2 separate regions of the Homo sapiens genome follow, and region 2 is linked to region 1. Evidence: fine-mapped expression QTL. A gene starts in region 1. The other region holds a variant in brackets. All regions are shown on one strand. Distances are from middle to middle. Region 1 holds the start of ZBTB47 (zinc finger and BTB domain containing 47). Region 2 overlaps CCDC13 (coiled-coil domain containing 13).

Evidence for each region.
Region 2: its variant is fine-mapped to the expression of ZBTB47 in whole blood (INTERVAL, PIP above 0.99).

The regions. Positions count from the first base shown.
Region 1 is chr3:42,645,168-42,660,752 of GRCh38, forward strand. ZBTB47 (zinc finger and BTB domain containing 47) reads left to right here and starts at 8,530. Exons shown (of 6, transcript NM_145166.4): 1 at 8,530-8,716; 2 at 13,108-14,661. The coding sequence starts at 13,189. ZBTB47-AS1 (ZBTB47 and NKTR antisense RNA 1) reads right to left here and starts at 9,221. Exons shown (of 3, transcript NR_125400.1): 1 at 8,827-9,221. It overlaps NKTR (natural killer cell triggering receptor), which reads left to right. Exons shown (of 17, transcript NM_005385.4): 17 at 721-3,568. The coding sequence ends at 808. RefSeq lists enhancers at 8,504-9,145, 11,210-11,504, 14,166-15,076, 15,077-15,585 and silencers at 9,151-9,510, 9,551-9,630.
Region 2 is chr3:42,754,565-42,770,096 of GRCh38, forward strand. CCDC13 (coiled-coil domain containing 13) reads right to left here. Exons shown (of 16, transcript NM_144719.4): 2 at 3,561-3,787; 3 at 2,502-2,650. The coding sequence starts at 3,781. Among named protein-coding and RNA genes, the nearest start is that of CCDC13-AS2, 8.3 kb to the right of the region's middle. The variant G/GAA (reference allele first, on the strand shown) is at 12,044.

The DNA.
Region 1 (15,585 bases):
ATTTGTGCACCTTTTCCCCATTACTTTTCTCAGGTAATCTATTCAAATATTGATACTCATTTTGGGTAATATGGGGAAACTATTCTGCTCATTGGTTTTTTGTTTTTGTGGTCCCAGCATTTGCATGAATGAATTTCACACAAATTTCCTAAGATGTGATGTTTCTTTATTTTATCTTAATCTTGACATTACTACAACTTGTCATTTAAAACAGCTTCAAAAAGTCCATAGTGTGAGTCGGGCACGGTGGCTCACGCCTGTAATCCCAGCACTTTGGGAGGCTGAGGCAGGTGGATCGTCTGAGGTCAGGAGTTGAAGACCAGCCTGGCCAACATAGTGAAACCCCGTCTCTACTAAATAAAAAAAATTAGCTGGGCGTGGTGGCGGGCACCTGTAATTGCAGCTACTAGGGAGGCTGAGGCAGGAGAATCACTTGAACCCGGGAGGTGGAGGTTGCAGTGAGTTGAGAGCATGCCGTTGCACTCCAACCTGGGCAAAAAGAGTGAAACTCCATCTCAAAAAGAAAAAGAAAAGTCCATGGTGTTGCCATAGTCAGTACCCTACCTCTGTGTTATGCTGCATCAATAGTGCATCAGTTATATGAGTGGCTTGAAAACACTATTGATGTTTTCAAGCCACTCATATAAAAAACAAGCTATAAGAGGAATTCAAAGATTTTACAGTTACAAGATTTTTATATATTTTGTTTTGTTATTACAGGAGTTGTAGATCTTATGGCTCTGACAGTGAAAGTGACCGAAGTTACTCTCATCACCGGAGCCCCAGTGAGAGCAGCAGATACAGTTGAAAACGTCCGGATACAAATTATATCTTATTTGTAAATATCTGGCAACTTAGCTTAAGAAATGTAATGACAGTCTGTTGTTCTATTTCAATATCAGAGGTGAATTTCAAAAATAGACACTTCTTAATTGTTACTGGTTCATTTACATGTGGGGAGAAGAATTTAAAATACAGATATGTCTCCTAAAAATATTTTTATGCCACATTTTACAGTAGCCAACTATGGAAATGAATTTCATTTTCTTGAATCAAGAAATCGTGAAATTTATCTATGTATAATTTGCAATATTATTTTAAGTCTATTTCACTCTATCTTACGTATCCCTTAGAATACAGATTCTTTTTGCCTGTTTTTCCAGTTTTAGCATATATGCTGCCAAGCATAGAACTGTGAAGGAGAACTGTTAAAGGCGGCCAAATATTTATATACTGATTACATAGAGTCTTGTACATATGTGCTCTAAAAACAAACCACCCAGAATTGATACTGTTGGTAACCAGGAGTATAAGGCAGTGGCTCTGGGGTTCTTAATTCATTCCTAACTTCTTTGATACTTCACAGGATTAGGAAAGTGGTCATCATACATCCCACACAGTCTGTATTACTTCAGGCTTGTGGGCAAGGTTAGGAAGAATCAATCAGCCTTAACTATAAATACCTGCACTGTCTCTGAGGACTTACTATTTTATGTTCTTTTTAATCAATACCGATCAGAAGTTTAGGTTATAAAAACAATTCTACTTCATGCTTTGGTGCTTGGTAATTTTTGGTGCGTCTTTAAGCATTACTCTTATATATCATATATTAAAATACCATAAAAATGAAATTCAGACAAAATCACTGGCACCAAAAATGGTTTATTCTGAGCTGTCTTCACTTTGACTATTTGGGGGGCTTCTCTCAAGTACAGATGTGGGTTGGGGTCCCCTGGAGCAGGCAGGATTGGCAGTAAGAGATATTGGCCACTCAAGTCTACTGTGTGTGTGTGCCTCTGGAAGAGTGAAGAATGGACTTCAAAAGTAACATCAAAAATCTAACTGCCACCATCCTGGAGACATTTTGCAGGGCTTTCCTTTCAAGTCTTTCAAGTACAGGATATTACCACAACAGCAGCTGAACTGTTGTAACCAGCATGTTTTTCCTATTTCCACTGTGACCTGCAGCTGACTCAAAGCCTTGCGTGACCTGACCCAGGTGCAAGAGACAGGGGAAGAGGGATAGAGGGTATAGCATAAATTACATATTTTCATGGCTTTGGGTGGTTCCTCCAAAAATAATTGGACCTGTAAAAACTAGTGTGTGTGTGTGTGTGTGTGTGTGTGTGTGTGTGGTTTTTTTTTTTAATCTTTACTTTGAATTTGTTCCCCAAGTGTACTTAATCACCTTAGTGCCAGTTTAATCCAGTTATGCAGAAGAAATTCATATTGGTTGCCTGATGTAGAGCTCAGCACCACCCTACCACAGGCCTTGTCTGGTGTATTTGGGAAGTGGAAAAGAGCCCTCAGTTGGAGGGAGCTGACAACCCTTGGTGGAGGGAGGGTGCCCTTGAATGTATTAAAACTATCACCCAAAGAAGGTATGAAAACAGGGTAAGGTGGTCAGTTGTTTGCCAGGTCAATAGACAGAAAGTACATTAGAAAACAGGACTTAGGCCAAACAAACAATACTGGATACTGAATACAAAACAGTATGATTTATATTAAAGGTTTCCAAAGGTTGCCTGCAAAGGAGAATATTACTACTAGTCAGCAGGAAAAAAATGCATTCAGAACCCAAGCAGAAACTGCCAAATGTAATTAGGTTAAGAAAAGTTACCCTTGGGCAGTGTATTAGTTTTCTATTGCTGTGTGACAAATTACCCCAAATTTAGCAGTTTAAAAAACAATACCCATAGCAGTTCTGTAGCTCATGAGTCTGGCACAGTGTGGCTGGATTCTCTGCTCAGGGTCTTAAAGGCTGAAATAAGGGTTGGCAGGACAACATTCCTTCATGGAGGCTCTGGGGAAGAATCTGCTTCTAAGTTCATTCAGGTTGTTGGCGGAATTCAGTTCTTTGCTGGCTCTCAGCTGGAGGCCCCTCTCTCACCTCAAGGCTGCCTGCATTCCTTCTTATGTGGTCCCCTCCAGCTTCAAACCAGCCTTCCTGCTCTTTCTCATGCTTCATATCTCTCTCCCGTCCTCCTGTTTTAGGGGCATATGATTAGCTCAAGCCCACAGATATATTTTAAGGTTGATTGTGCGATAGAACATAATTGCAGGAGTACTGTCTCATCTCATCATATTCACGGGTTCTGGAGATTAGCTCATTGAAAGTGGGAGGGGCATTTTCAAATTCTGCCTACCACAGGCAATAACTGCCCATCTCAGCTGTAGGTGGAATTTTTACCCAGAAAAGATAGGCCCTAGAAGCCTCATTTCTTTTCTCCATGGAAAAGGACAGCCCTCTGCTGCAGCGTTCAACTTGTGTGTTTACTGACAGAGTGAACTACAGAAATAGCTTTTCTTCCTAAAGGGGATTGTTCTACATTTTGAAGTTATTTTTTAATAAAATTGAATTATGTTGTGTATTGTGCTTCTTAATAGGAAATGCATTATTGGACTGTTTTTGTAACATCCTGTTTATTGCAAATAGCTAGTATCGTTCAAAAACTGTATAAAATACTTTTGTACATATTAGCAATGTCTAATTTGTATACACTTCAGTTAAATTTCCCTAAAACTTGAAAGGGGACCTTGTAGAAATTAAAATATATACTTAGTCTAAGTCTGAGTCTGTTCATGTTTTATCTTTCTGCTGACCCAGCCAGTGAAGACACCTCATCTCCTTTGGCAGCTCCTTTTCTTCTCCTAGCTGAGTGTTAGTGGTGGGTGTAGGAGGTGGAGCTAGAGAGAATGTCAGGCAGAGATTTTAACCTACACAGGTAAGCATTAATGATGTTTGGTCTTCCTCCCCTGGAAAATCCAGATTTCCTCTACACTTTGTTGTCATCTAGTTAAAATGACCTGCATAAAGATGTCTTTGCTGAGGGAGGAATATGTCACATCCCATGTGTGAGTTTCTACCTAGAGACAGTCCATTTACCTACAGCCTCTACATTTCCCTCCCTAACGGCAGCGCACTAGGCAGTGCAGCACATGTCACTCACTCCCAGAGAAAACATTCATGGTGATATTTTTAGTATACACATAAGAATTTGCAGGGGAAGTACAATTAACTTTTGTCTCCTCAGAACTGAAAGGAATGTCTATTTTCTTAGTGAATACAACATAACTTATTGTAGTTAACTTCTCACTGCAGATACTCAGTTTTTAAACTGAGTTAACAGTGGACTCCTTAGTTGGGCAACTCCTGAAATTTGTCAAATCTGGATGCATTCCTTTAAAATGTAAAGAAAATGCAGGATCAAGTTCTGATAGTGGTAAACTTGATAGTTGGGCAGTATTGGGGGGAAAATGTGCCAAGGACTTTGGTCTTGACTCTTCTGAATTAGCTGGGCATTAAATAGGCGGGAAGGTAATTCAAGGAAAATGCCCCTCTTGCAAGAGATTATGGACACTAACTGGGCATCACTGTTTAGAAGAGACGGGAGGTGGCCAGGCATGGTGGCTCACGCCTGTAATCCCAGCACTTTGGGAGGCCAAGGCGGGTGGATCACTTGAGGTCAGGAGTTTGAGACCAGCCTGGCCAACATGGTGAAATCCCGTCTCCACTGGAAAAAAAAAAAGAGGCTCTACTCAGTTTTTCAAGGCAAATGCTGAGCCTTGAAGGAGTGTTGCAAACTAATGTGGTCAGGTGAAAGGATGTGGAAGCCATGCCTCACAAGGTGAAACGGACTGGGTTCAGATTTCCGGAGAACTCTGGTTTTTGGAACAGAGAATCAAGTCTGCTGTTCCCCACAGTGAGGCAAGAGCCTGCAGGCCCATGAGGGCCTTGTGGTAGAATGAGCTGGGAAGACAGCAGGGAGAAGTTCTTTGATGCAGTAAAGGCCCCTCAGGAGTCCAGAGGTGTCAGGGGAGGACGCTGGGTACCCTGAAAGAACACCTGTTCATCTCAGGACAGACTGGGAAGCTTGTCGGGGCCTGGTAAGTGCAAGGCAAGGAGAGCCTGCCCTGGCCACATACACACAGGGCTAGGAGGCTTTAGTGGTCTGTTTTCTTTCAAAGTTTCAGTACAAGGTAGAGATAGTGCTCCCTTGCTGCTGCCTCCACTCCTCACTGTGAATCAGAAGGCCCCAGGTAGGCCTGCTGCCTCTTGGAGACCCCAGACCCACCACTTACTATAGCCCATCAAACTCCAGCTCCCTAGACTGAGCTGAGCTTCACAGCCTGCAGAACCCAGGCTAGCTTGGAGAGGGTTGCATCTCTTCAGCCCAGAGCCTTGAGGACATCAGGGTAAAAGGAGTGGCCACCTATATTTCTAGTGCTTTAGGAGGCCTAGGCAGGAGGATTGCTTGAGGCCAAGAGTTCAAGACCAGTCTGGACAACATAGCAAGACTATTAAGACAAGAACAGAACAAAAAGCAGCTGGGCATGCTGATGCACACCTGTAGTCCCAGCTACTCAGAGGGCTGAGGTGGGAGGATCACTTGAGCCTAGGAGGTGGAGACTACAGTGAGCCATGATTGCATCTCTGCCCAGCTTGGGCAACAAAGCAAGACCCTGTCTGAGAAACAACAAATGGAGTGACCTGAGGTCTCAGGACAAACACCTGCATTCTGCATCTTGAGCCCTGATCCTGGGCCTCCTATGGCTCATAAACCCCTGAAAGAGGGTATACATGACTGGCACACTCAGACATGAGAGACAACCAGGGGTGCTCATCCCTTCCCAGCCTGCAGACGAGTCTGCCTCCCAGTGGACCTGGCCCACAGGGGTTGGGTGTATAGGCTGGCACTTCACCAGCCTCTGGTCACCTAGGACCTCTAGCAACTAAAATCTCCCATCAGGCCAGGTTCCCAGAGAAAGCCTAAGAAGAGTCCCCACTGACCTCAATGCCTCCAGCCTAATTTGGTTTTATTTTGAAGAAGCAGGGGGACTTCTATGAGCAACTATGCTATGGTACAATCGTTAAGGTCTCTGGGCCAGAACCAGGCTGCTTGGGTTCAAGTTCAACTCTGCCACTTCCCAGTTGGGTAACTGGAAGGAGGACAATTTGCTTGACCTCTATAATTCAGCTCATCTGAAAAATGGATGCTAGGGATTCCTCCTCCTAGAACTGTGGTGTATTAAACGTTTAGAAAACCAAGCATACATCAGTGGTTCAGAGGTGGTGGCCCCTGAGGTGGTGACTCTAGGAGAAGTGAAGGAGTCCCAGAGGGTTCATGTGTGGAGCCAGGTTCACTCACTAGGGAGAGGCCCAAGGCCCCCAGAACCAACAGGGCAGGAGAGGATCCTAGAAGCTGCAAGAGAGACGTGAAATGCCAAAGCCATGATGTTTATGCTGTGAGGGAACCAGGCAACCTACCGGTTTGCATGAGGCCCCCAACCCAGGGCAGCTGTAGCCTATTAGTGCTGGGTTCAGTGGAGGCAGAATTCAGGTGTAAACTCCACCCTTAACCCACCCCACACCCTGGGGATTCATGTTTTCCCGCCCTACTAGAACTTTGGGCTTCGGATCAGCGCCTAGTGGGTAGCTTTGAACTTCCCTGCCAGCCCACTGGCCACATGCTGTGCGAGTTGAGTTGCATTGCCTGTATTTTTCTGGCATTGCCCACTCTGCTCTCCCTCTTCCCCAGGCTCAGCTACACACAGCTCCATGCCCTCCGGGCTGACTCAGTCCTGCATTGTTCCCACACACATACGCATACCCACAACCTGGGCTGTTCTTTCTAACTTCAGTGGGGTTGAATCTGGTTTCCCCAACTAAGCCTGGGGACACTCCAGCACTGAGGGTAGATACTTAGGGAAATTGAGAGAAAACCCATGAGCTGTCTTCTAGAGGCAGGGGCATAGCTTTGCTGACCTTGTCAGGACCCAATCCCAAATATGTGAAGGATCACTAAGCTCTGCCCTTGCTGGGTGAGCGTCTCCAGACTCCTGACTCACCCCTGGGGCATGCATTTCTGGCCCAGGAGTCAACTCCCCAATAACTCAGTCCCTCCCTCCAGAAAGCCTGCCTTGACCTCCCTGAAGTGAAGCTCCTACTGCATGCCCCTCATCAGGACCAAGAGAGAAATTCTGCCTCTGCCTAGCTCCACCTGTTCACTCCCACCAACCAGACAACTCCTGATCGATAGGAATCTTGACTCCACTACACCAAATCCCCTCTAGTTCCCTGCAGATGCTAAATTGTCTCCACCTCCTGGCCTTTGCAGGCTTTCTGTCTGGAAAGCCCTTTCACTCCCTCATTGCTCTAGTTAATGTTCAAGTTCAAGCCTCAGCTCTGAGCAGCCCTGTGGGCCCACCAGACAGCTCTTCAAACCACTCCTTCCTGCCAGGTCCAGTGTTGCCAGGTGCCCACAGCTGCTCACAGAGCTCAGGCTCTGCCCTGGGACTCCCCAGCTGATGAGCTGCAGGCCAGAGAAGCAAGAGGGGAACAGCCGAGGCCTTCAGGGAGACTGAGTGCCTCCCCACCACCTGTCCCCTCCCTTCTCACCCAACCTCCAGCCCTTTCTGCAGCTTGACTGCTGGAGCTAAGGCCCCAGCAAGGCCCCATAGGGCCAGCATCACTACCTCAGTCACGCTGGCCACACCCTCTGTCAAGCTTTGGCTTGGCAGTGGGCCTAGCAATGTCCCATGCAGCTCTCTCTGCCAGGCTTCTTCCAGCCCGTGGAGGGGTCCCTTCTCCCCACCTCCCCTTCCCCTGGCTCCTGATGCTGATGCCTAAGTGATTTGTCCCGCTCTGAGCCTCAGAGTCCTTATCCAACCAATGGGCACACAGCCCCTCCCTAACTAACTCCTGGGCCGGTGCTAGGATCCACTGTGAGTCAGATGAGGAAGTGGGCTGGGGAGGAAGAGGCAGAAGGCAGCCCTCAGCGGGCTAGCTGGTCAGAAGCATGTAAGCTGCTCTGGCCTGGCCTTAACCTGGGGCCTCTGGGAGCTGGGCCAGCTGTCTGTGCACCCATGCAGGTACAGGATGTCTGCAGCAGCTGCCAGGGGCTTCCAGATGCCCCAGGTTTGGCCCCTGAGACATTTTCTCCCTAGCTCTGGGATAGCCTTATCCTGAGGCCCTACGTATTCTGGCAGAGAGTGGGGGTGGGGGAGGAGGCCCTTGCAATCTTACAGGACAGACCATCAGGCTGTTTCACAGCACCTGCCTAATACCCTGGTCTCTCCTCCATTTCTCCTCTGGCACCTAGAACCAAGTCACCCTGAGCCAGCGCCAGAGTTCCTGCCCACTCGTGAGTAGGACAACATACCCAGGAGATACTGCTGCAGCTGGACATGGACTTGTATGTAAACACAAGCGCACATATGTGGGGAGGGGTGTGGAATATCAGGATGGGGGCAACATGAGAGTGACCCAGGATGGGCAGTAGTGAGCTTGGGGTAGGAGGAGGGGATGTCCACAGAGGCCTCTCCTCTACAATGGTGGCCCAGTCACCATCCAGACCTTGCCAGGTCTAGTGCCCCGTGGTCCCCACCCTGCTGCCTGCTCAGCCTGGCAGCCTTCCTTTACAGCCTCCTGCCAACAGAGCCAGCCCCCTGCCCCCACGGGTGTCCATGCCAGAGCAGCATTCCGCAAGCCTGGCTGCATCTCCCCAGCAGAGGCTGAGCAAGGGGGCCACTCAGCAGTGGTCAGGTCACACGGCTAGAGGGGCACAGTGGGGCCTGGGCCTCTGGTCCCTACTCCTCTGGTCCCTCTGTCTCCTGGCCCTGGGCCAGTCACCTTAGATGATTTGATCGCTGCGGTTGTAGTCCTGGGATTTAAATCTCCTGCCCTGGGTGGCCCTATGCAGCATGAGGCCGCCAGGTAGGTATGGGTCCACTGGAGCCAAGTCCTGGAGGCACAGAGCAAAATGAGCCCTGCGCCGCCCTGGGATAGGGATGGGGGACTGGACCAGTTGGGGACCCCAGACTCACCCCCAGGTCAGAGCAGCCCAGGCGAGAGGGTGGGGGTGGTGAGCGCGGCTGGGGTGCGGGGTTCAGTCCCTCAGCGTGGGATCCCTCAGGGGAGCGGGTGGAAGCCTTTTCTGTTCGGATCCGGGGCCCGGCGCGCTCAGCTTCCTGATTTCACGGCAGCTTCCTATCCTGGCTCCCCCTCCGTGGCGCAACCGGAGGGCAGCGATGTTTGACTCCCGGACGAACTTCCCGGCAGAAAGGAGGCTCAGCACGGGAGGGTGGGGCCGGGGTCTATCTGCTCGGATATGAGCAGTGGGGACGGGCTGGGGGCTGGAGCTGGGGCTGGGGGTGGAGGGCAGCCTGCGGCAGGGCGGGCTGCACGGGGACCGCGCACACCACGCGTGTCCGCGCCCCCCGCCGGCACGCAGGCGGCCTGGCCCTTTAAGCGTCCAGACGGCGGCCCCAGCTGACGCGCGGGCTCCAATCGGCGCCCCGCGCCCCCCGCCCGCCGCGCCCGAGGCTCTGGGGCCGCAGCTGCTTGGCGCTGGACTCGCCGCGGCCCTGCGCCTCCGCCTGCCTGGCCGCGCCCCCGGGGGCCATGGTCGCGGGGCCCTGCGCGGGGGCGGCCCCCAGCGCGGCGCTTCATGGAGCGGCCCTGGCCTGGCCGCCGGGGGCAGCGCGATCCCGCGGGGCCCTGTGAGCCCCCAGCGCCACGGCACCATGGTACGCAGGGCCCTGCCTGTCCCCCCGCTTATCCGCCCACCTGCCAGCTCTGACCTCCCAGGCACACGGCCCGCGGGCCCGGGTGGAGGGGCTGGAGGGATCTTCCCCCCTCCCCCGGTCTCCCGGCTCCATCTGCTGGGTCCCGCGGGCCGGGAATGCGGCGCTGTGGCGCTGCTCTCGGTGGGGAGGGGGTTAAATTCCTGTGGTGGGGGCGCCGGCGCGCGAGGCTGAGGTCTTGCTAGGCACCGGCGAAGGGGGGCGCTCCCCTGCGCCCGGACGGCGCCGCCCTCGGGCTGGGTAATGGGGGGAAGAGGGAGTCGGATTCCCGCCTGGGCCTTGGGCCACGTGGGCGCTGGAGCCGCCCTGCCTGGGGATTCGGGATGACCCGGGCCAAGGGGGTGTGGGAGGACACCCAGAGCTCCCGTACCAACTCCTGTGTGACCTTGGGCAGATCCCCCGCCCTCTCTGGGTCTATTTCCAAGGGAAAGAGGGGAGGTAAGTGCACAGAGGAGGCTGGCATGGACACTCCCTCACCAAAAGGAGGAGCCTAGAGGTCATGAGCCTGTGCCCCCTTGCTCAGTCTGGGCCCCCCCACTGCTGCCCAGCATAGAAAGAATTGACATGGGAGGGGGGCGCAGATGGACTCCCCAGGTTTCATCATGGGGCCTTCCAGGGAGGCTCTGAGGCAGGGTAGAGAGATGAGGCTTCTCATCAGTGAGGCAAGGTACCCCTCAGGTGTAGAAGGCTCTGACTTGGGTGAGCAGCCTGGAGAGATGTCTGGCACCTGGCCAATCCCCAGCCTGACTTGGGGCAAGGGTTTGAGGGCATGAAACCCCCTGGCAACCAGAGTGCCTGACCACCTCCCTGGTCCTGCATCTTAGCTAGGCTGGAGTGACCTGGACTGCAGCTGGCACAGCCGGATGGGGAGGGGCACGCATTGCTTCCGGGAACCAGCACATCTGGCTGTGGAGGCCAGCACAGCTGGTGGGCATTGTGTGGGAGGGGCCAGACATGGGGGTGGCTGAACCCTGCTGAGGGGCTGCCAATTGTGGACTCGGGCAGCATCTCTGTGCCCAGTCAAGAGAGTCCAATCAGGTCATGAGGTTTAGGGCCCCCCAAGGGCCAAGGATGGTGCTGCCTTGGCTGAGAGTACTACCTTAGCAATGGAGTGTTTGAGAAAGCACTCCCCTCCTTTCCTGCTGAGAGGCCAGAGGGCCAAAGTCAGGCCTCATTTGGCCTAGAGGCCAAAGTGCACATGGGAAGGTTGCCCTTTCCCTGTGGCAGGTGGGCACAGGTGGGCAGTGGAGGGCATTCCATAAAGGGAGAGCAGAGAGATCTGGGGCTCTGTTGCCTGGGGTGGACTTCCCCCAACAGGCCTGGCTTCAGCAAACCCTTATCCAAGCCACTTCTCCTGCCAGTCTTTGGCCCCTGGAGGCCCTAAGGAGCCCCTGTTGCAACCCAAGTTGTACCCTGATCCTTCACTGACCTGCAGGTGCAGTGGCTCTAGGGAGGAGGGAGCAGGTAGAGGGGATAGTGGTGAGTGTGGGGAAGCACGGCTGGTCTCCAGGTGGCGGGATGTTCTCGCTTTTTAAGTCATTAAAGGCTCAGAAATCCAGCCATGTGGGGTCTAGCAAGGAAGGGGTGGTCTTAGCGGAGCTGGGAGTCCAGGGGCTCTGGACTGTGGAACCCTCTCATTCTGAGCCTCGGTTTCTCCATCTGTGTAGTAGGGGTTGGTCCCAGAAGATGAATCAGAATGAGTCAGAGGAGGGAGATGGGAGGGGCTTGGTGCCACGTCCCAGTTAGATTGGCCAGGCCTGGACAGCCTGGGACAGAGGGAGATGGATGGCTTCTTGGCTGGGGTAAGGGGTGTAGTGGAGAACTCAAGGAAGATGGTAGCCTTGGCCAGGGGCCTGGCCAGACTGGGATGTGAGGGAACACAGGATGGCTGCTGCCCTGGCTGCTGGGTGTAGGGGGCAGGGTCCAGGGCAGGCCTGGAGACAGGTGGCCCCTGGTGGCTCAGGGAGGCTCCTGCTGAGGCCCACGGTAGGTTTCTCATTCAGGTGACTGAGAAGTGGAGCTCAACCACCACCACCCCTGCCCAATCCCAGCCTACCCACTGCTCTCCTGGCGATGGAAGGCCTGGCATGGGGAAGGGGGGCGGTAGGCTGTGGATGGATGGGGCCAGGATTCATCCCAGGGTCCCCAGGGAGGCACTGACAGCTATGGAGCTGATGGTTTTGTGGCCATCAAAATATTGTGGCAAGGTACCTCCCGAATGCAGGAGGCTCAGACCTGGTTGGGCAGGCCCTGAGGAGAGCCAGAACTTGGAACCAGTGGTGCTGGTCCAGCTGGGCTGGTGGTTGGTGGATATTAACAACATCTGCACATCACTGTGTGATGGTTCTCGTGCAGGGACTGGGCAGGCTGCCTGTCTGTGCTGCCCACCTTTTGGGGAGGCTGCTGTGGTAGAGCCGGGGTGACTGAGTTGGCTTCTATTCCAGGCAATTCACAGGTGCTGGATGTGGCCCACAGGCCTGATAGTCTGACCCATCAGACATTGAGGGCCTCCGCTAGGGCTCTGGAAGCCCCAGATGGTGTGGCCTCTAAGGCAGGGCTTTCCCAGAGCCTGTGGACATGGACCGTACCTGACCTGGGGTCTGGGGGTCTACCGGGAAAAGGATCTGGGGCAGGCCTTGGGGGCCTCCTGCCTGCAAGCATGGTAGGCAGGTTCCACAGCTGTGTCCTTCCACCCCTGCAGAGCCCCTGAGTGAGAGAGAGCTGCTGGGGGCTAGGCCTGAGGCTGCAGGCAGGGGTTGGGGGCAGCCTGGCCCAAGCCCTGGCTGTGATGAGGAGACCTCACCAGGCAGTGCAGCAGGACCAGAGTGGGGAGAAGGTATAGGCCCTGAGCCTGGATTTCTTCACAGGTTTCAACTTCTGCAGCAGCCACATGGCTGTTGCGATGAGGGGTTCCCTCAGGTGCTACCCCTTGGATTCTGTAGCCAGAGACTGGGCAGTGAGCAGTGAGCCCGGCTTCTGTTCTTGAGGTGTTTGGGGCTGGGCAAGCTTGCTTTTATTGGTATGTGTGAGTGAATATGTGGAGAGAATCCACGGGGCTGAGGAAATGCTGAAGGAATGCCTGTGGCCCTCCTGGGGTGACCACCTGGTCCCGGTGTGCCTGCGATGGTCCTGGTTCTAGCACTGAAAGCCCTGCACCCCAGAAAATGCCCAGGTCCCTGGCAAACCTGGATGGTTGGTCACTGTGGTCTCTCTTTCATCCCCTTTCCTTCCCTTTCCCTTCCTGGGATGACTTTTCCCATTTCCCAGGAGATGACCCAGAGGCCCAGAAAGTGACAGGACCTGATCTTCAGCCTCAGAGGGTCACGAGTGGAGCCTGAGCTCTGAGGCAGCTCACTCAGGCTTGAATCCCTTCCTTGCTAGTTTCGGCTCTGTTGCTGTAAAGTGGAGCCACGAGTGATGGGCTGCCTCCTGGATGGCTGGCAATGCTGGGAGTGGTGCTGGGGGAAGGGCGGGCAGGGGCCCACTGGCCTTGACCCACTCCTGTGCCCTCTGTCCCCGCAGTTGCTGGTTGAGAAGACAACTGACTCCCCGGCGGCTGAGTTCTCGCTGGTGGAGGACGTGGCGCTGCACTTTGCCTGCTTGATGGGCCGCCTGAACGAGCAGCGCCTCTTCCAGCCTGACCTCTGCGACGTGGACTTGGTGCTGGTGCCCCAGCGCAGCGTCTTTCCGGCACACAAGGGTGTGCTAGCCGCCTACAGCCAGTTCTTCCACTCACTCTTCACCCAGAACAAGCAGCTGCAGCGTGTGGAGCTGTCCCTGGAGGCACTGGCACCTGGTGGCCTGCAGCAGATCCTCAACTTCATCTATACGTCCAAGCTGCTGGTCAACGCGGCCAACGTCCACGAGGTGCTCAGCGCCGCCTCATTGCTGCAGATGGCTGACATCGCTGCGTCCTGCCAAGAGCTGCTGGACGCCCGCTCTCTAGGCCCACCAGGTCCGGGCACTGTGGCCCTGGCCCAGCCGGCTGCCAGCTGCACTCCAGCTGCGCCGCCCTACTACTGTGACATCAAGCAGGAGGCCGACACCCCAGGCCTGCCCAAGATCTATGCCCGCGAGGGCCCTGACCCTTACTCGGTGCGTGTTGAGGACGGGGCAGGGACTGCTGGTGGCACAGTGCCTGCCACCATTGGGCCAGCCCAGCCCTTCTTTAAGGAGGAGAAGGAGGGTGGTGTCGAGGAGGCCGGTGGGCCCCCAGCCAGCTTGTGCAAGCTGGAGGGTGGAGAAGAGTTGGAGGAAGAGCTTGGGGGTTCTGGCACCTACAGCCGCAGGGAGCAATCCCAGATCATCGTGGAGGTGAACCTCAACAACCAGACACTGCACGTGTCCACGGGGCCAGAGGGGAAGCCAGGTGCCGGGCCAAGCCCAGCCACCGTGGTTCTGGGCCGGGAGGACGGGCTGCAGAGACACTCGGACGAGGAGGAGGAGGACGACGAGGAGGAGGAGGAGGAAGAAGAGGAAGAGGAAGGTGGTGGCAGTGGACGGGAGGAGGAGGAGGAGGAAGAGGGTGGCAGTCAGGGAGAAGAGGAAGAAGAGGAGGAGGACGGGCACAGTGAGCAGGAAGAGGAAGAGGAGGAGGAAGAGGAGGAAGGGCCTAGTGAGCAGGATCAAGAGAGCTCTGAGGAGGAGGAGGGGGAGGAGGGGGAGGCTGGGGGCAAGCAGGGGCCACGGGGAAGCCGAAGCAGCCGGGCAGACCCCCCTCCCCACAGTCACATGGCCACACGGTCCCGGGAGAACGCCCGGCGCCGGGGTACCCCTGAACCTGAAGAAGCTGGGCGGCGGGGTGGGAAGAGGCCAAAGCCACCCCCTGGAGTGGCCTCTGCATCGGCCCGAGGGCCGCCAGCCACTGATGGGCTGGGGGCCAAGGTGAAGCTGGAGGAGAAGCAGCACCATCCATGCCAGAAGTGCCCACGAGTTTTCAACAACCGCTGGTACCTGGAGAAACACATGAATGTGACCCACAGCCGCATGCAGATCTGCGACCAGTGCGGCAAGCGCTTCCTGCTGGAGAGCGAGCTGCTGCTGCACAGGCAGACAGACTGCGAGCGCAACATCCAGGTGGGCCTCACGTGGCTGGGGGCAGGGCAGAGGCTGTCCAGGTGGGGCTAGGCCATAACTGGGCTCTGGGCACCTAGTGTCTTGCTGACTGCATTACCTAGGTGGTCTGCGGAGACCAGACTTAGCCCCCAGACAGGCTGGCCCAGGCCCAGTTCTCAGGGTGGTTAGAGCTCAGGGGTAACATCAAGCCGAGCTTCCTGGGAGAGGTGGATAGAGTTGGGCGCATGAAGAGATGTGCAGAGGATTGGAACAAACAGTACCCTTGGCCAGAGGGACAAAGGGGACACATGGACTTGGGAGGATGAGAGTGGAGAGTTGTCTGAGCAGACAAGGCCAGAAGACAGGCCACTCTGGGTGGGATGAGTCAGACGGGGTTTTAACAAACACGGGGGCTGTAGGAAGGCCAGCAGGGCCACTGTGTATAGTTTCACAGGTTGTGCACTGCAGCAAGTGAGCACACGATGGGAGGAGGGGTTTGCCCAGAGGGATGCCATCCTCCACTTCCCACAAAAGTGCTGTATGGAGGAGGGGGCAGCCCAGCAGGAGGCAGCCCCCACTTTCAGCTCTTTGGGGATGCCAGCTCCCATGGGCCTGGGAAAAAGGGATTGGGTGAGAAATTTGGGAAGAGCAGAGGCTGCTGGGGTAAGCAGGGGAGCTGAGCTGGCTGCTGGGCCTTGAGCCAGCCTGAGTCTGTTTGTGCCAGCCTCACTTCTCAGGGTGGGGTGGCACAGGGCCAGCCAGGCTCCCACGGGTGGTTTTCACCTCTTCTGGCCCAGGAGAAGGGGGAAAGGTAGCAGGTAGGTGGGTGCTAATTGCCTGCGCTAATTGCTAATTGCAGTGCCCTGTGGAGAAAGTGTTACCCGGGGGTCACCTGCTATCCTGCCCCACCCTTGTGTACCTGTGCCCACTTGCCCGCCTGCTGGG
Region 2 (15,532 bases), 110 kb after region 1:
CCCTGTCTCTTTTGCTGAATACAACCAAAAGCCCTGGATAGGATGTGTGAAGCAGCTACCTGAGGGTTCCGGACATAAATGGTAGCAAGCATATTGGGGAAGGAAACCGGACCTAGAATTACAAATGGTCCAGTGGTACGTTTCCTCCCAGGACTCAAATCAGCACAAATTCTGGAACTGGCTATCAGAAAGAGGTTCAAGAGAAGGTCTTTCTAGTCCAAAGAGCAGGAAGTGGGGCTCAGACAGAATGGAAAAAATCCTCTGGGTATTTTTTTTTCCTATTCTTTCCCAACCCTGTCTCCAGGCAAGCTCTACTGTTGAAGCTGCAACCCCTTGATAAATGGGGGCGGCAGTGGATGGGCAAACACAGAAATGCTAACTATCTGGCTAAATAGAATAGTTTTCCCTTTGGGTTCTTTAAAATACATATAATAGTTGAGCAAAAAGTATAACATTGACTGATGGGATTTTCAATATATATAGATATAATACATATAAAAACTGCAATAGAAAGGGAGAGGTAAAGGGACCTGAATGGTGGTAAAGTTTCTACATTCCATTTGAAGTGGTAAAATATTAGTTCTACGTAGACTATGAAAAGGTAATAAATATTTTGTAATCACTAGATCACTAAAAAACTGTACGAAAAATATAGTAAGCAAACAAAACCCAAAGGAATCACTAAAAATCCAGCCAAAAGAAACCGATCTATCAACTCTCAGTAGCCTGTCACTTGCAGCTCAGTTTAAAAACATAAATGGAGGCCAGTCGCGGTGGCTCACACCTGTAATCCCAGGACTTTGGGAGTCCGAGGCGGGCAGATCACAAGGTCAGCAGTTCGAGACCAGACTAGCCAACATGGTGAAACCCTGTCTCTACTAAAAATACAAAAATTAGCTGGGTGTGGTGGCACACACCTGTAATCCCAGCTACTCAGGAGGCTGAGGCAGGAGAATCACTTGAACCCAGGAAGTGGAGGTTGTGGTGAGCCAAGATCGTGCCACTGCACTCTAATCTGGGCAACAGAGCAAGACTCTGTCTCAAAAAGAAAAAAATTAAAAACATAAATGGGCTTGTCAGATTTTCTCTCCAAAACGTGAGAATGAAAATCAGAAATGGTGACTTCAGAGTGAAGACTGGATTTAAGTGGTTTTCAGGGACGCTTAGGGCTGGCAGTCAGATGAGGCCACAACCAAGTCTGGGCTTTGGCAAAGCTTGCAAGAGACAGTTAACAATGAGAGGGGCTGGGGAAGAGGGAGTAACCCCAGATCTGCTTCCCAGGTCTGCTGGGTGGAGATGTATCTCCTGCTCCCCCTGGAGCCCATCAGCTTCTCTACAGCCTTGCAAAAGTGCAAGTGGCCCCTTCCACAGCTGAATCTGTAACCAGGCTGAGTGTAGGCTTCCTTAGCCAGGCTTTGTGTTTTTTGTTTCAGACAGAAAAGGCCAAAGAATGGAGGGAGGTGCATTAGGCTACCATGAGTCTTTAGGATACCAAATTCCCCTTGCTTTGTAATTCAGCATTGACTGACCAGAGCTTTGGTCCTATGAACGTACCTATCCTCAAACGCATTTACTCTCAAAGGCAAGGACAATAGTCTGGTAGATGCTGAGTCAGCCCTGTTGCTCTCCGTGATTGGTGACATCTATAATACTTTCTTATTTATTAGCCATCTGCGAATTGCTCAATGGGTATATACATAACACAGGACAATCAAGTCCAAAGTCCTCACTACATCAGCAGGGCAAAAGTCAAACTCATAACCACAGAGCCAATGTCCAGCTCACAACCATGATCAAAGGTCATTCCCAGACCTGCAAAGCCAAGGTCCTCACCAGACTCATGGGGCCACCATGAGGTCTCCACCAACACAGCCAAGGTCTAGCCCAGACTTACAGGGCCAAGACCCAGCCCACACCTTGTTGGTGGTTGGGTCCCATGATATCCTCCTAGAACAGGTGACTCATCTACCTTTCTGGAGCAGCAACAGCAGGTGCTGTAGAGTTCATACCTGGCTCTACTGGGGCTTTTTTTTTTTTCAAGACAGGATCTCTGTTGCCCAGGGTTCAGTGCAGTGGGGGTGATCATAGCTCACTGCAGGCTGCTGGGCCTTTTTTATGTTCACAACATAACATGTGAGCCAGTGCACCAAGGAGAAATGGATCCTGCCAGCCCCTTTACATGCTGCGAGCATGATGGCAAACCCTTGTCATGAGTCCCAGCTGGATCACCAACATTGCCTATGATGCTTGCCTGCTGGCCCTTCTGGCCCATTTTTAAATCCCTCATTGCTCCCTGTGCTCCCATTTTCTGGTGGGCTGGCCTCCCTGGGGCTGCTCTTTTCCTCTACCCTCTCCCTCACTTCCAGGACTCCTCTGGACAAGCTTGATCACAACTGACCCTTGGCACTCTCTTGGGAATCTGCTCTCTGGAACCTGCTGTCTGCCCTATCTGAAGTCCCTGGACTGCAGGGCAAGGACTATCACAACAATGGTGGAGCTACCTGTGAAGGCAAATCTGTCCTCTTCTATTTTCTTTTTGAGGTGTTTGATTTCAAAGTCCCTTTCCTTCAGCAGCTTATACAATCGCCCGTTCTCGTCCACCGTTTCCCTGAGCTCATTTCGAAGGTGTTCAATCTCATCTTCAAGCACCCTACAAGGCAAAGGCAGAATTAATGCTCCTCCAAGGCAAAGGCCCTGGTGGGCAGGGGTCAGGCCTCCACTGCCTAGGTGGACAGATGGACACGCAGATGCAGACACACTGACGTGAAAGAAGAAAGATTTCAATGTCGTTCATTAGCTGGCTTAAATAGGGAGTTATAAAAAAACCCACTCATAATTCATATTTCTTTTAAGCATCCATGGAACATGCATAAAAATATATTACAGGGCTGGGTGTGGTGGCTCATGCCTCTAATCCCAGCACTTTGGGAAGCCAAGGCAGGAGTTTGTGACTAGCCTAGGCAACAAAGAAAGACCCTGTCTCTAAAAATAAAAGAAAACAAAATTAGCCAGGCATGGTGGTGTACACGTGTAATCCCAGTGACTCTAGAAGCTGAGGTGGAAGGATTGCTTGAACCCAGGAGCTTGAGGCTGCAGTGAGCTATCATCCTGCATTCCAGCCCGGGTGACAGTACAAGACTCTGTCTCTTAAAAAAAAGTATTATAGGTTATAAAGGGAATCTTAGCAAATTCTAAATAATAACATTATACAGACTATTTTCTCTAATGGCAAGTGACTGTTTTAGAAATCAATAATAAAAAATAGAAATAAAACAAGAAAACCCAAAACTCATCATATGCTTGGAACTAGAAAAACACCCTATACTCCTAAATTATTTATGGGTTAAGAAGAAATCATAATATGTATTATAAAGCATTTAGAATGGATTGACCACAGAAGCTGTATCAAAACTTGTTAAATGCAGCTATAATTAAGGCTCTAAGCTTCCTTCTATCACTTTAGCTGCATTTTACAAGTTTTGCTATAGCTCCGGTGGTACACACACACACACACACACACACACACACACACCCCTGAGAGATTTCAAACTTGCATTTACCTCTTCTCAAAGCTATTTTTCGAGTTTGGCTCCCCTGCGTGGAGAAGGCTGAGGCCATCTGAAACCTCCAAGGGCTCCTCTTGGTCGTCAGCTCTGCTTTTGAGGCTCAGTTCTTTTTCCCTCTTTTTCTCCATCTGCTTCTGTAACCGTTTGTGCTGCATCTCCTGCATTGCCTTGAACTGGAGCCGCAAAGTGTTCTGTGAGCTTTCATCTGCTGCCATCCTGCCCTAGGCATCAGAAATGAAGCCTCAGCTGAAGCAAACTCCACACCGAGCGCTCAGCACACAGTCCGCCCTGTCTGCAGCCCCAGCCTTGGAGTTTACTGCTTCGCGTTGCATGTATGTCCACGCAGAAGCTTGGAAGCTCCACCCTCACCTCAGATCACTAGAAACCCAAGGTTGAACTGAGCATCCTCCCCAGTTCCTGAACATGCCACCAGATTGCACATGGCATCAGAATAGTCTCCATCACTCAGACTCAACACTTGACTCTTGCCTGTCCCTTAAATCAATGGTTCTCAACTCTGGTTGAACATTGAAATCCCCTAGGAACTCCTAAATAACAATGCCTGGGACCATTTCCAGACCAGCTAAATCCCAGTTTCTAGGAACAGGGCTTGGCCATCATTTCTTCTTTTTCTTTTTAAATTCAGGTATAATTCACATGCAATAAAGTACATAAATCCTGACCATACGGCTCAGTGAATCTTTCCATAGACATATACCTCTGTGGTGACCACCCAGATCAAGGTACAGGGCACTTACGGTCCCTGAGCAGGCTACTTTGTGCCCCTTCCAGTGAATCATCCCCCAAGGTAACCATTATTCTGACCGCTACCACCTAAGATTAATTTTGTCTGGTTTCTTTTTAGTCAGTCTATCAAAGAATAATTTATGTACAATAAAATCCACCAGGTTGGGTGCAGTGGCTCATGCCTTGCAATCACAGCACTTTGGGAGGCCAAGGTGAGTAGACTGCTTGAGACCAGGAGTTTGAGACCAGCCTGTATAACATGGCAAAACCCCATCTCTACAAAAAATTGGTTGTGGTGGTGCATGCCTGTAGTCCCAGCTACTTAGGAGGCTGAGGTGGCAAGATCGCTTGAGCCCAGGAAGTGGAGGCTGCAGTGAGCCATGATTGTGCCACTATATTCCATTGTGAGTAACAGTGAGACCCTGTCTCCAAAAAAAAAAAAAACACAAATTTTATGTGTACAAATGAGTTTTGACAAATATATTCACTTGTGTAAACCACCTCCACCATCGTGAAAGAACATTTTCATCACCCCAAAATCCTCCTTTGTGCCCTTTTGCAGTCAATTTCCAGCCAATCCCAATCCCAATCCCAGGCAAACTCTGGTCTGCTTTTGTTCACTACAGTTTTGCCTTTTCTGGAATTTCATATAACTAGAATCATACAGTCGTTAGCCTTTTGTGTCTGGCTTCTTTTTTGCTCAGCACTACCTTTTTGAGATTCATCAATGTCATTGCACACATTATAAGCTCATTCGTTTTTATTACTGAGTAATATTACCTTGTTTAAATAAACAAGAATTTGATTATACATTCACTTGTTATTGGACATCTGAGCTGTTTCCAGTTTTGGCTATTATGAATAAAGCCGTTATGAACATTCATGTATAAGAAGGTATTTGTGTGAATGTATGTTTTTATTTCTCTTGGGTAAATACATAGAAGTGAAAATTCTGGCTTATATGGTAATTTATGTTTAACTTCATAAGAAACTGCTAAACTGTTTGCCAGAGTGGTTGTACCATTTTACATTCTTACTAGCAATGGGAGTCCCAGTTGCGCCATCCTCGTCAGCATTTAGGCTAGTCAGTCTAAATTTTAGACTTTCTCATTAGTATGTAAAATGGTATCTCAGCCGGGCATGGTGGCTCATCCCTGTAATCCCATCCCTCTAGGAGGCCGAGGTGGGTGGATAAACTGAGGTCAGGAATTCGAGACTAGCCTGACCAACATGATGAAACCCCATCTCTACTAAAAATACAAAATTAGCCAGGCGTGGTGACATGTGCCTGTAATCCCTGCTACTCGGGAGGTTGAGTCAGGAGAATTGCTTGAACCCAGGAGGCAGAGGTTGCAGTGAGCTGAGATCATGCCATTGCACTCCAGCCTGGGCAACAAGAGCAAAATTCTTGTCTCTAAATAAATAAATAAATAAATAAATAAATAAATAAATAAATAGGCAGGGCACAGTGGCTCATGCCTGTAATCCCAACACTTTGGGAGGCTGAGGTGGGTGGATCACCGGAGTTCAGAAGTTTGAGACAAGTCTGGCCAAAATGGAGAAACCCCATCTCTACTAAAAATACAAAAATTAGCTGGGTGTGGTGACACAGGCCTGTAATCCCAGTTACTCAGGAGGCTAAGGCAGGAGAATCACTTGAACCTGGGAGGCAGAGGTTGCAGTGAGTCAAGATTGAGCCATTGCACTCCAGCCTGGGCGAGGTTGCAGTGAGCCAAGATTGCGCCATGGCACTCCAGCCTGGGCGAGGTTGCAGTGAGCCAAGATTGCGCCATGGCACTCCAGCCTGGCCGAGGTTGCAGTGAGCCAAGATTGCGCCATTGCATTCCAACCTGGGTGACAGAGCAAGACTCTGTCTCAAAATAAATAAATAAATAAAATATAAATAAATTAATTAATTAAAATAAAATAAAAATAAAATGGTATCTCAATGTGTTTTTAATTTGTATTTCTCTGTTGACTAGTTATGTTGAGCATCTTTTCATGTGCTTGTTGACCATGTGTATATCTTCTTTTGTGATGTGTCTATTCACATTTTTTGCCCATTTTTAAATTGTATTAGACAATACAATTTACAGTCACAATACAATCACTCACTGTTACTGAATGATCAGTTTCTTGTACATTCTTGATACTTTGTCTGTTTGAACTTCACATAAATGAAATAATAGAGCACAGACACTGGAATTATTAAATGCTCCCCTCACGATTTTAAAGTGTAGCCAGTGGTAAGCATCCCTGCCTTAAACCAACCTCAAGCCACATCATCTACCTATCATCCAATTAATCATAAATCTTGTTTATTTTCCATAAATGTCCTAAAATCTGCCCCCATGTCTCCATTCCCACTGATACCAGGCTCATAACCACCTTGGGGTATCTGCACTTGCTGTTACCTCTCCAGGAATGTCCTTCCCCCAGACATCTACCTTACCTACTTCCTCTCAAATGTCACCTTATCACAGAGGTCTCCTCATATCCTATTGTAGAAGGCATCCCTGCCCTCGCTCCCCATGCCCTTGCCCTGTTTTGTCTTCCTCCATGGCACTGAGAGTCATCTGACACATTATATTTTGATTTGTTTACTTGTTGACTGCCTCTCTCCCTCCCCACCAGCTTCACAATGGCAGGCACTGTGTTGTTCATTGCTGTATCCTCAGTGCCTGTAGCAGGGCCTGGTATATGGCAGGCATGGAATGAATACTTGCTGAACAAATGAATAACATTTGCTGAGGGACAAGTTTCTCTAAACCACAGCTCTGAGCCTGACAGACTCCTGTGCAAAAAGCTTCAGCAGATGCCCCTTAGCCACAAAGCCAAGTCCAATGGCATTAAGCGCTTTGGATTTGGCCTCTGTGTCCTTCTAGCCTGTTTTCCCTTTCATAATGCTAACTTCTAGCTAGTTGTGTTGACTTGCTCCTCTGTTCCTATACCTCCTTCTCCCCCCAAGGCTTAAATCTTGCTGGTCCTCCTACACCCAGCATGAATACCATGGTCCTTTTCTGACCCGCCAGGAGGAATACTCTACCTACCCAAACAGCTTCAACTGCTCTATCTGTACCTTCTTAATATACTTATCTCCATCTCACACACAGGGGTGGTCCCAGAGCCTGTACCCAGTTACTCTTAAACTTGCTTCAATACCAAATCCCCAGGATACAATCTAAAAATGCTGATAACCAGGCCCACCCCTAGAGAATCTGATTTAAATTAGTCTGGAGTGGAGACCAAGCATGGGATGGTTTAACTGCTGCCCAGCTGGTTTTAATGTGCTGTGGGCTGAGCCCAGGGTTTGGCAAAGGTCAAACAAAAGCAGAAGCTGGTGTTATGTTGAAATTCCTTACCAGGCAGCTCTGCCCAGTAAGAGGAACTATAAAGAATTAACTCTGAAAACCTGTATTGTGCACACCCGCACATTCCAAAAAACATGTTTGGCCTTTGACCCGCTCCTAAGAGAGAATCTCTGAGCCCTTGGACCATCCTTCCTGATGAGAGTGTTTTTCTTCACCTGGGGACCTTGGGCCATTCCAGTCCATGTTAATTAACAATGTGATTCATTGCCAGGTGCAGGGTAGGCTGGAGGGGGCTGGAGATCGAGTGACTAAGGTCAACTGTACCTACGTAACCATCTCCTAATAAAAACCCTGGACACCAAGACTCAGGGGAGCTTCCCTGGCTGGCAGTACTCCATGTAAGTTGCCACGAATTGTTTCTGGGAGAAGTAAGTACTGTCAACATGACTCCACTGGGAGAAGACAACTGGAAGCTTGCACCTGGTGTCTCCTGGACTCTGCCCTATGTGTCTCTTTGCTGATTTTGACCCGTATTCTTTCATTGTAATAAACAATACATGTGAGTATAATAGCTGGCCCAAAGGCTATATCCTTTGTTAAAAGATAAACGTTAGGCCAGGCATGATGGCTCACACCTGTAATCCCAGCACTTTGGAAGGCCAAGGTGGAAGCACAGCTTGAGCCCAGGAGGTTGAGACTACAATGAGCTGTGATCGCGCCACTGCACTCTAACCTGGGTGACAGTCAGACCCTGTCTCCAAAATAAAAAAAGAAAAACTTTAAACAAATCAAATTTAACAGAATTCAACTGAGCAAAGAATGATTCACAAATCTAGCAGCCCCCAGAACCAGAACAGATTCAGAGTGACTCCAGGGCTGCCACCTAGTCGAAAAAGATTTATGAACAGAAAAAGGAAAGTGATGAACAGAAAGCACAAGTGAGGTACAGAAACAGCTAGACTGATTACAGCTGGCTGTTTGCCTTTTTTGAATACAATTTGAATAGCTGGCTGCCTGTGATTGGCTGAAACTCTGTGACTGGTACAAGAGTAGATTGCAGTCTGTTTAAATTCCTAGTCAGGTTACAGTTTACTACGTACAGAGAAACCTTTAGGCTGAACTTAGAATATATAAGAAGGCAGCTTTAGGCTACAGTTAGTTTAACACATCCCACAGACATTTTTGTTTGGCTCTTACAGAACACTATGTTAGGATTTGAATTTGTTGCCAACATTCAAAGAATTGTAGTTTCAATATCAGATTTCCAGTGTCAACAAAAACAGTCAAACTCTGTAAAATATTTGAAGAGATGTACTTTTTTTTTTTTTTTTTTTTAGATGAAGTCTCGCTCTGTCACCCAGGCTGGAGCGCAGTGGCACAATCTTGGCTCACTGCAACCTCTGCCTCCTGGGCTCAAGCAATTCTCCTGCCTCAGCCTTCTGAGTTGCTGGGACTACAGGCATGCACCACCACACCCAGATAATTTTTGTATGTTTTTGTAGAGACATGGTTTCACCATGTTGGCCAGGCTGGTCTTGAACTCCTGATCTCAAGTGATCCACCCACCTCAGCCTCCCAAAGTGCTGGGATCACAGGTGTGAGCCACTGCACCCAGTCTGAAGAGATTTATTCTGAGCCAAATGTGAGTGATCATGGCCTGTGACACAGCCCTCAGGAGATCCTGAGACCACGTGCCCAAGGTGGTCAGGGCACAGCTTGGTTTTATACATTTCAGGCAGACCTGAGACATCAATCAAATACATTTAAGATATATACCGATTTGGTCCAGAAAAGCAGGACAACTCCAAGGTTGGGAGGGGGGAGCTTCCAGGTGATAAGTAGATTTAAAATTTTTCTGATTGGTAATTGGTTAAAAGAGTTACTATAAATAGAAAGGAATATCTGGGTTAGAATAAAAGAGATAAAAGTTTTGATCATGCAAATGAAGCCTCCAGGTAGCAGGCTTCAGAGAGAATAGATTGTAAATGTTTCTTATCAGACTTAAGGTCTGTGTTGATGTTAAATGTTGGTCAACTTTTCCTGAATTCCAAAAGGGAGGAGGGTATAATGAGGCGTGTCCAACCCTTGCTTCCCATCAAGGCCTGAACTGGTCTTTCAGGTTAACTTTGGAGTGCCCTGGCTGAGAAGGAAGTCCATTCAGATGGATGGGGGGCCTCTGAATTTTATGTTTAGTTTACACCAGCTTCTTTTATAAAAGTTTACAGATCTGGCAATGCTGGGCCCATCGTCCCACACGGACAGCAGCTGCTATGCAGAGAGTTCCTTTGGTGCATAATAGGTTCTTTCCATTAAACCACTGTCCCTGCCACCTCCAGATGCTGCAGCTGGCACATCAGCTGCCCATTATCACTGCACATAAATGTTGTTCTTTCTCTTAAACCTGCTGGATTCACTTTTATTTCCCATCAGCCACAGCAGATGTTTTGGGTTTGTGGCTCCTGCTGTGGATTAAGCCCAGTGGCATCTCAGAGGCTGGCTTCAGCCACTCCTCTACCTGGGAGGCCTTCCTCCCAGGCCTCCCCATCCCAGCCCTTTACCTTCCCACTAACTCCCAGTTAGCCTCTAGGATTCCCCTCAGGGCACTCTGTGGACTCCCAGAATCCCTAGGGCACCCCTTGATCACTAAACTTAACCTCAGTGTATTATAATTATCTATTATTTTATTTACATTACTTCCCTTTACAAAGAGACCTCTTAAGGGCAGGGGTCCTAATACCTTATTCATTTGCTAAATCTCAACATCTTGCCCAGAACAGGCCTTCAACTGTCATTTGTAGAATTGTCACTGAATGAATGAACACAGTAACTTGTAAAGCTTTTCTCCTTTTCTACTCCCAATTTGCACTTGAAGTCACTGAGGAACTGGTACTCATTGAATGTACACTGTGCCCCAGGCAAATTACTTAACCTCTTTGCTTTCGTTTCCCATTTGTAAAATGGGACTCTGATACTTACGAACTTCACAGGGAGTTTGTGAGATTAAGTGGAAGAATGCATGGAAATAATTATCATTATCACTGTATGAAAAGTGGTGCTCTTGGCCCAACGGAGCCTCTGGGATAGACAGTAATGCCTGCACTGAGAGGACACCTGTGGTCCAGACCGGCCCCCAGAGTATTAGTATCTAATCTGTGCTATTCATGAGGCCAGTGGAGATTTGAAATTAATTATCTGGGCTGTGGCCAGGGTGTCTATTTTTATTTTTATTTTTTTGAGATGGAGTTTCACTCTCGTTGCCCAGGCTGGAGTGCAATGGCACGATCTCGGCTCACAGCAACCTCCATCTCCTGGGTTCAAGCGATTCTCCTGCCTCAGCCTCCCGAGTAGCTGGGACTACAGGCATGCACCACTACGCCCAGCTAACATTTTTGTATTTTTAAAGCTTCCCAGGTGAGCCTAACGTTCAGCTGGTTTGAGAATGAGAGGTGTTAAGCACTCTGAGAGGCTGTCTGGGGAGAGAGAAGCTGCAGGAGAGACAGGCATCTCAGTCAATTTGAAGCTGAATGCAGAAGAAATTCACCTGGGTGGGGAAGGGACGGTGCCTGAGTGGGGGGCAACGGGCTCTCCTGCCAGAACAGCATGTGCAGAGAATGTGATGAGTGTGGGGAACTATGAAAGGTTCAGAATGGCCAGAGGGCAGGGCACATTTGGGGAGGCACCAGAAGAAGGGTCTGATCTGCCCAGCTAAGGAGCCTGGACTTTATCCTGAGGCGCTGGAGATGTTCAGAGGGTGCACACAGGATCAGCTTTGCCTTCTGCAGAGCTGGAGGCAAAGGGCCTAGCTAGGAGGGGGTCTCTGGGAAGCCATGTGGGCCTAAATCAAAACTGTAGCAGTGGAGATGGAGGAGGGGGAAGAGGAATTGCTGCCAAATGGAAGGGACTGAAGGCAACTATGCAGAGAAGGAGAGGGGAGAAACCTAGGCGGTTTGGGTTTGAGTGACTGGGGAGACAGCAGGCCCTGACAGAGGAGCAGTTTTCCACGCTGCAGACAAGGTGGTGGACTTTGAGATGCTGGGTGGGCAGCTGGCTGGCTGAGATGCTGGGTGGGTCTGGGGTTCAGAAGGGAAGTCTGAGCTGGAGCCTCAGGTAGTTGAGACCTAGAGTATGAACAAAGCAGCATGAGGAGAAGGTGTAGAGTGAGGAGGTGGGAGAGAGGGAAGGAGAGGGAAGAGGAAGAAGAGACAGCTGGAAGCAAGTAACAGCCTGACGGGTTCATCTTGCCTGCTGTTCAGAAAACCAATGCACTAAAAACAGCGAGTTTTGCAGCAAAGAAAGAGTTTGATGGGCCAGTCAAGTGAAAGGAGGGGAGGTAATTCTCAGATCTTCCTCTCACTGCAGTGAGCCATGATTGCACCACTGCACTCCAGACCGGGGAAAAGAGCGAGATCCTGTCTCAAA[G/GAA]AAAAAAAAAAAAAAACAACCAACCAACCAAACAAACAAACTTCCTCTCCAAGAATATTAGCAAATTGAATCCAATGATGTATTTGAAAAATTATACCACATGACCAAATAGGAGTTACTTTAGGTATGCAAGGCTGGTTTAACATTAGAAAATCAATTAACATAAACCTATCACATCAACAGGCTAAAGGAGAAAAGTCACACAATCATATTAGTAGACACAGAAAAAGCATTTGACAAAATCCAATGCTCATTCATGATAAAAGCTCTAAGTAAACTAGGAATAGAGGGGAACTTCTTCAATTTGATTAAGAACATCTACAAAAAACATACAGCTACCACCATACTTAGCAGTGAGAAACTACACGCTTTACCCCTAAGACTGGGAACATGACAAGATGTCCCTTCTCTCTACTCTCTTTCAACATCATACTAGAAGTTCTACCTAATGGAATAAGCCAAGAAAAGGAAATAAAAGATATATATTTTGGAAAGGAAGAAATAAAATTGCCTTGGTTGCAGATGACTGATTGTCTATGCAGAAAATCTCAAAGAATCTATTAAAAAAAAAAAGAACAAAAAAACTCCTGGAACTTATAAGTGATTGCAGCAAGGTTGCAAGAAGTAAGGTTAATACACAGAAGTCAAATGTTTTCCCACATACTAGCAATAAGCAATGGAAAGCTCAAGTTAAAAATGCAATGCCATTTATATTAACACAAACATTGAAATACTTAGGTATAAATCTTACAAAATATGTGTAAGATCTATATTAGGAGAAATATAAAACTCTGGGAAAAGACTATAAACTATAAAACTCTGATAAAATCAAGAACTAAACAAATAGTTATCTCATGCACATGAATAGGAAGAATGAATATTGTTAAGATGTCAGTTCTTCCCAACTTGATCTATAGATTCAATGCAATTGCAATAAAGAAATCCCAGCAAATTACTGTATGGATATCGACAAATTGATTCCAAAGTTTATGTGGAGAGGCAAAAGATCCAGAATATCCAACACAATATTAAAAAAGAACAAAGGTGGAAAACTGACACTACCTGACCTTAAGACTTACTAGGCTAGGCGTGGTGGCTCACACCTGTAATCCCAGCACTTTGGGAGGCCGAGGCGGGTGGGTGGATCACCTGAGGTCAGGAGTTCAAGACCACCCTGGCAAATGTGGTAAAACCCCGTCTCTACTAAAAATACAAAAATTGCCAGGTGTGGTGGTGGGCACCTGTAATCCCAGCTACCTGGGAGGCTGAGGCAGGAGAATCGCTTGAACCCAGGAGGCAGAGGTTGCAGTGAGCTGAGATCGTGACATTGCACTCCAGCCTGGCCAACAGGAGCAAAACTCCATCTCAAAAAAAAAAAAAGACTTACTATAAAATGATAGTAATTAAGACAGTGTGGTATTGGTGAAGAAACAGACAAATGAATCAATGAAACCAAATAAAGAGCCCAGAAATAGATCCACATAAATAGAGTCAACTGATCCTTGACAAAGAAACAAAGGCAATGGTGCTGGAACAACGAATATCCATATGTAAAAAAGTGAATCTAGACACAGACCTCATCCCTGTCACAAATATTAACTCAAAATGGGTTATATACTGAAATGTAAACTGCAAAACTTCTAGAAGGTAATACAGGAGAAAATCTAGCTGACCTTGGGTTTGGCTATGAGTTTTCATATATAATACCAAAAGCATGATACATGAAACAAAAAAAATTGATAAATTCAACTTCATTAAAATTATAAACTTCTACTCTGTGAAAGATACTGTTAAGAAAATGAAAAGAGGCCGGGAATGGTGGCTCATGCCTGTAATCCCAGCACTTTAGGAGGCTGAGGCAGGCGGATCACCTGAGGTCAGGAGTTTGAGACCAGCCTGGCCAACATGGTGAAACCCTGTCTCTACTGAAAATAAAAAAATTAGCTGGGCATGTTGGTGTGCACCTGCAGTCCCAGCTACTCGGAAGGCTGAGGCAGGAGAATCGCTTGAACCCGGGAGGTGGAGGTTGCAGTAAGCTGAGATCACTCCACTGCACTCCAGCCTGGGCTACAGAGAAAGACTCAAAAAATAAAAAAAAATAAAAAACAAGAAAATGAAAGAAAAGAGAAGCCATAGAGACTGGAAGAAAACCTGCCAGACACATATTTGACAAAGGACTACATCCAACATATACAAAGAATTCTGATAACTTAATAATAAGAAAATACCCCAGTTAAAAAGTGGGCAAGGCCGGGCATGGTGGCTCATGCCTGTAATCCCAGCACTTTGGGAGGCTGAGGTGGGTGGATCACCTGAGGTTGGGAGTTCCAGACCAGTCTGGCCAACATGGTTAAACCCTGTGTCGACTAAAAATATAAAAATTAGCTGGGCGTGGTGGCAGGAGCCTGTAATCCCAGCTACTCAGGAGGCTGAGGCAGGAGAATTGCTTGAACCTGGGAGGTGGAGGTTGCAGTGAGCCGAGATCATGCCATTGCACTCCAGTCTGGGCAACAAGAGTGAAACGCCGTTTCAAAAAAAGAAAAAAAAGAAAAGTGGGCAAAAGATCTGAACAAACTCCTCAACAAAAAAGAAATATGGATGGCAAATAGACATATGAAAAGATGTTCAGCATCATATGTAATCAGGAAATTGCAAATTAAAACAAAAATGAGATACCATTACATACCTATTAGAATGGCTAGAATCCAAAACATTGACAACATCAAATGATGGCAAGAATGTGAAGCAACAAGAATTTCTATTTATTGCTGGTGGGGATGCAAAATGGAAAAGCCACTTTGCAAGACAATTGGGTAGTCTTTTTCAAAGCTAAACAGTCTTGCCATATGATCCAGTGATCATATTTACCTAAATGAGTTTAACAATATATCCACACAAAAACCTGCACATGAAATGTTCATAGTGAGAGGTGACAGCATGCTGGCAGCCCTCGCAGCCCTCGCTCACTCTGGGCACCTCCTCGGCCTTGGCGCCCACTCTGGCGGTGCTTGAGGAGCCCTTCAGCCTGCTGCTGCACTGTGGGAGACCCTCTCTGGGCTGGCCAAGGCCGGAGCTGGCTCCCTCAGCTTGCAGGCAGGTGTGGAGTGAGAGGTGCCGGTGAGAACTGGGGCTGCGCGCAGCGCTTGCCGGCCAGTGAGGGTTCTGGGTGGGTGTGGGCTCCGCAGGCCCACACTCCAAGCAGCCGGCTGGCCGCAAGCCCCTGGCAGTGAGGAGCTTAGCACCTGGGCCAGCAGCTGCTGTGCTCAATTTCTCACGGGGCCTTAGCTGCCTCCCCGCAGGGCAGGGCTGGGGACCGGCAGCCCGCCATGCCTGAGCCTCCCCCTGCCACCGTGGGCTCCTGCGCGCCCCAGCCTCCCCAACGAGCGCCACCCCCTGCTCCGCAGCACCTGGTCCCATCAAAAGCCCAAGGGCTGAGGAGTGCGGGCACACAGCGGGACTGGCCGGCACCTCCGCCTGGGGCCCTGGTGC